Regions from separate parts of the Homo sapiens genome. Here region 1 is linked to region 2. Evidence: fine-mapped expression QTL. Tissue or cell type: prefrontal cortex. Region 2 holds a variant in brackets; the other region holds the start of a gene. All regions are shown on one strand. Distances are from middle to middle.

The links. PIP is the estimated chance that this variant, and not a neighbour inherited with it, causes the effect.
Region 1: SLC12A8 starts here. The variant in region 2 is fine-mapped to the expression of SLC12A8 in prefrontal cortex (CommonMind, PIP 0.95).

What each region holds. Positions count from the first base shown.
Region 1 is chr3:125,211,447-125,214,126 of GRCh38, forward strand. It overlaps SLC12A8 (solute carrier family 12 member 8), which reads right to left and starts at 1,302. Exons shown (of 14, transcript NM_024628.6): 1 at 1,254-1,302. RefSeq lists an enhancer at 423-1,022 and silencers at 914-963, 974-1,193, 1,234-1,383.
Region 2 is chr3:125,120,293-125,122,972 of GRCh38, forward strand. It overlaps SLC12A8 (solute carrier family 12 member 8), which reads right to left. Exons shown (of 14, transcript NM_024628.6): 7 at 307-394. Among named protein-coding and RNA genes, the nearest start is that of MIR5092, 30 kb to the right of the region's middle. RefSeq lists enhancers at 159-208, 211-717, 718-1,223, 1,429-1,648. The variant C/T (reference allele first, on the strand shown) is at 1,000.

The sequences.
Region 1 (2,680 bases), 91 kb after region 2:
TGTTGTCCATCCTTTCTCTCTACTAGAATTGTTCAAACTACCAGGCGAGGCCCTGGCTGAGGAAGAAACCTTGTCTACCTCATCTGGAAACTTGGCCGGGTTACCTTTTTGGTACCCAGGTAGATCCCGCTGGTCCTTCAGTGCCCACCTGTGCTCAAACCTTGCTGCCCTAGAACCTCAGGCACTCCCAGCTCTCTCCTTCCCTGAGCTCCTTAAATACGTGAGGGTCAGAGCCAGCTGCCCTGCTGCCCAGCCCTTGAGGACACAGAGTCACACTCCTCTCCCACCCTCAAGTGCCTCGTGAACCCCTCTCTCCAGGAGGAGGGCATCATGACGCACTAGACCTGGCTGCAGGTGGTGAGTGAATGTAGCTGCGCCCTGAGCAGAGGGGAGAGGGGCCATGAGGAGGCTGTTTTGGGGCCCTTCTGGAGCAGGGCCGGAGAAGGGTAGGAGATTGAAGAGGGTGAGTGAGAAAAGGCTGGACAGGACTAGGGCAGCTCCTCAACCCACCCCCAGGCACCCTCCCCTTCGCGCTGGACCTGGCTTTCCTTGAGGGGAGGAGGGAGTTTGTCCCCTTGATCTGTGTGGCGCCTCTCCCCAGCACAGTGCTGCAAGGTAGACGGGGCTCAGGACCCTTTGGTAGAAGGAGGAAGGGGGAGGAAGAGAGCGAGGGGGAGGGTTAGAGCTGATCTTCCTGGGAAGAAGGCGACTAAGGACAGCAGCCAGCGCTGGCGAGGAGGGAAGGCGCCCGGAGCACTGAGTGGGGGGTTGGGAGAGGAGGGTTAGCCCAGTGGGAAGCTGGGAAGGCTGGGGGACTTGGTGGGCTGCAGTCCTGCCAAAAGCCGGGTGACAGGTAGGGAGCCAGAGCACCCGGGTGTCCCCGGCTGCCCGCGCCGCACAGAGCAAGGGACCCCAGGCCTCCGCTCGCCCTTCCCGCCGCCCCGCGGCCTCCGCAGGCCGCCCCGCAGGCCTCCGCCCACATTCACCTGGCTCCTCCGCGGAGCCCCTACCCTCACGTTTGGGCCACGCTGGGACCCGGGCCCCTTGGCACCCCACGCAGACGCGGACCCGCACCCCAAGTACTGGGGCCAGGCCCGTGTGCCGGCGCGCGGGTGACCGGCGGTAGGAGAGGATCCACCTGGGCGGGGAGGTGGGGGCAAAGGTGACCCCAGGCCTGGCTCCTAACTGCGGGCCGGGGAGAGGAACTGTCCCGAGACCACCCTCTCCACCCCCCACAGCCCTTCCGCCCTCACCTGCTCCTGGGACAGCCAGCTCCCAGCGCCCGGCCCGCCCGGTCCCCGCCCCGCCGCCACGTGGCTGCCCCGGCTCGGCTGCGCGGGTCCCAGCTGTCCCGTCCCGGCGGGGGCACCCCTGCCACGCCAGCACCGGGAGTCTCGGGCCCAGGTGGCGAGGAGGCGCTGCAGAGGCTTTCCCTCCGCAAGGGTCGGGCCTTCGCGCCTACCTGGACAAGAACATTCACCTGGGTAGGGGCAGGGCTGGGGGAAAACAGGGAGTAGGGGCCGCAAGCCCACAGGCTCGAAGTGACCAGCCACTGCCTCTCCCCCCTCGACAGTGCAACCAGCGGAAATGCCCAGCCCCGGGACCAGGGGACTAGGGACAGGAGCCTACCCTGTGCGGCTCTGAGGAGTGGCTGTGAGCACTGCACGCAGGACTGAGAAAGCCCGGGATAAGCCCGGAGTGCAGGGAAACCCGCAGCCCCCTGGGCAGATGTGGAGAAGAATCTGGACAAGCTGACCGAGACCCCGGTACCGGGGGTCTCCGTGTGTGCCTGGCTGCGTGATCAGGTGACCCCAGACTCTGAGGGCGTGGAACTGCTTTTGCCAGGAAAGCGCTCTGGGCATGCTGTGTAGGGGTGAATTACCCTTACCCCCTTCACCAAGACCCAGAACTGCCTTTCCTAGGGGTGAAGTAAGGTTTCCAGGGCCTCATGTTGCAGAAAAAAAGAACCCTAAATTAACATACAGAGAGATTAAATTATCTCCATTCCCAATCTGGCATATTTCCTAAACCTTAAATAATTTGAGAGGCTTCCATGTGGGCTTCTGAGAAACAGGAGGGCAGCTGGGAGAACTTCCCACGCCCACAAGCCTTTGTGTGAAAATCCCTAAAAATAGAGGTTGTTCTTCTAAAAACAAAAGGGAAGGCTAAGCCATGGGAACACTGACAGAACCTAACCTCTCGCTTCTGCTCCAGCAAAGACGCGTGTGAAGATATAGAACATCATATTTGCCATTTTTACCATTTTAACTGTACAGTTCAGTGGTATTAATCACACACAATATTGTCCAACCATCATCGCTATTTCCAAAACTTTCATCGTCCCCAATAGACACTCTGTACCCACTAAGTACTAACTCCCCGTTTCGTCTACCCTCAGAGGTAACTCCCCTCATCTACTTCCCGTCTCTATGGATTTACCTATTTTGTGTATTTCATGTAAGTAGAATCATACAATACTTGTCCTTTTGTGTCTGGCTTACTTCACTCAGCATAATGTCCTCAAGGTTCATCCATGTTGTAGCATGTGTCAGAATTTCATTCCCAGCAAAGAAATTTTTAATAACCCATCTCTGCCAGAAAAAAAGACCCCCCAAAAGTTACAGATTAACCATCTGTGAACAAAGGATGAATGGGCGGACAGGCTGACACAGTCACGTTA
Region 2 (2,680 bases):
TTCAAAATGGGGGTGGGGGAGGGACGGGGGCGGGAGGCCGAGGAAAGGAAAGAAAGGATTCGATCTGTGATCTGGGTCCCGACACTCCTCCTCGGCAGCATTCCCAGGCAGGGCGCATGAAAGGGCAGTGTCTGAACCCACCAGACGTGAATTTTCCAGCCCACCGAGTGTTAAAAGAAGGATCGGAATATGAAATAGATTGGTCACAGTCGGGGCACTCTCAGAACAAAAGGGGCAATCCCTCTTCTGCCTGGGGTTTTCTCTCCCACTCTCTAGCTCAGACTGATTGCCATGAGGGGAACTTACGAGATGCCAACAGCTGCCAGGGAGCCCAGGGGAATGCTGGCGGCAGGCTCCCTGAGGTCGCCCCCCATGTTGAAGCCGGCCATGACTCCTGAAAGACACCCAGATGGGGAATGGGGTGAGCAGCCTCCTCCACGCATCGCCTTCCCCAGGGCTGCCCCTTCCTCTCCTGCGGGACCCTCTCCTGGAAGCTGTCCCACCGCAAGCCCTCCAGCTGCAGCTCTGCGCATAGGCTGCTTTTCAATCTCCCCTGGCAACTAGGGAGGCATCCCTGTGGCGTGAAAGGCACCTTTGTGGGTTGGAGGAGGCTCAGGAGGAAAGCCCTCCCAGCTCCAAAAGCATCCTACCGCTCAGCGCAAAGCAACCAGGGGGGAGGAAAGCGGCTTGCAAGGCACACAGAGGTCCTGCGCTGCCTGCTGAGCTGGGACAATGCCCTGGAGAGGCTCAGCATTACAAAGGTCTGGCAGCCTCCTGCTCAGCAGCTTTCCCTGCCTCTGCTGCCTGCTGATTCCATGGGAGCTTCCTGTGTCCTCGGGGTCAGGTACCATCCTCCAAGCCCCTGAGCTACCAAAGGGCTTGAAATAAACTCCAAAAAAACCAATCCTGATGCCACTGACATGGAGTCACAAGCTCCTTTTCATCATCACCTCTCTTCTGCAAGAACACTAATGAAAATGAATTAATCCATGAGGGACC[C/T]ACAGCACAGTGCTGCATGGTGAAGTGGGGATGTTGCCTCTTCCCATACAAACAAATATATGAAAGCAACAAGACAGGGTGTTCTGAACATCGGATGAGGATCCAGCCCACAAGTGCCATAACAACTCAGTGTGATGGGCTGCCCTGGTCAGGAAAGACCCGTGGAGGGGGTTGTATCTTGAATGTGGCCTTGAAAGAGGGATTTGAATGGGCTTAGGGATGGGAATGAATCTAACTCCATGATTTGTGAACACTTTCAAACTGCCTGGGCCTGTGTCAAGTGCTTTACATGCATTTTTTTATCCTGTTTAATTCTCATAACAACCTCATCAGAAAGGTAGAATTATTTCCTCATCTTATGGAAAAGTGTTCAAAGAGGTTAATTAAAACAGCCTAAGGTCACACATTTAATAAGCAGCAAAGCTAAGATTCAACCCTGGTCTGTCTGACTCTGAAAATTATGCTCTTAATGCCTCTGCTACAATGCTTCACAGAATCCAAGCGAAGTGCAGTGAAGTGACAGTTTGGAACCAGAAAGTGAAAGTAGGGGGGTGTATTTCAGAGAGAACCCTGAATGCTGGCCCGCGGATGGGGTGCATATACTGTCACCCAGCAACTCCACTATGAGGACTTTACCCATCGTAGGTAGTCAAGGCTATGAGGGAAGATTTAGCCCAGCGTGTTTATAAACGCTTGTTTAGAATAGTGGAAATTAGAAACAACCTAATGTCTAAAAATAGAGGGTTGGTTAAATAAGTGATGATATAGCTTTCAATAAATACTAGGTCTCAGAATATTGTAAGGGATATGTTGTGACATGGAAAGATGTTTAGAAGCTTTTGCTTAGTTTTAAGACGCATATTAGAAAACAGAACACATGGTATGATCCCATTATTATAAAAATATATAGAAAAAGGAACTGGAACATGTTTTAAAACATTAACAATGTTATTTCTGGGTGATAAAAGAACAGGTCATTTTTATTTGACTGTTTATATTTTCTCAATTTTCTACAATGATCATTTTGAAACGTGAAAACTTTTAAGGTTTTGTTGTTGTTGTTTTTGTTTTTGTTTTTAACGGCCTGTTAGGCACATTTTCTTTCCTCTCATTCCCTCCTCTCCAAGATCCTATTAAGAGCATAGTAAAGGGGAAAAGTAGATAAATTCCCATAAGCAAAGAGAAGTTGGGAGGAGGACCCTAAGTAGATGAAAGGTTCCCATGAATGTCTGGAACATAGAACATAGAAAATGGAGAATATAATACCGAGGAAAAGAGAAGGAAAGAAAGCCTCGGAATGCTTCTCTACAAGATCTCAATACACTGAGGAAAACCAGGGCTGGACGTTTGCACCCCAAATAAAGCCCTGCTCAAGAATCAACAGCACTCACAAACTTCTCATCAAGGTAGGGCCCCAGCAGGGAGACAGACCTAACCATGCGACAGCTGGGGAAATCCATGCCCACAACCAAGATCACCCAATGTGTGATGAAAACCAGCAACAAATAAACAAATACACGCATAAATAGAAACAGAACAACCCAGGCTGGAAGAAACATAAATCAGGATACAGAGAGAATTTGGAAGAAAACACTAATTAGTAGCTCCAGGTACATCCAAGAAGAATATTCTATCTATAAAACAAGGTGCTATGAAAAAAAATCCAAGAACAACAAAGAAC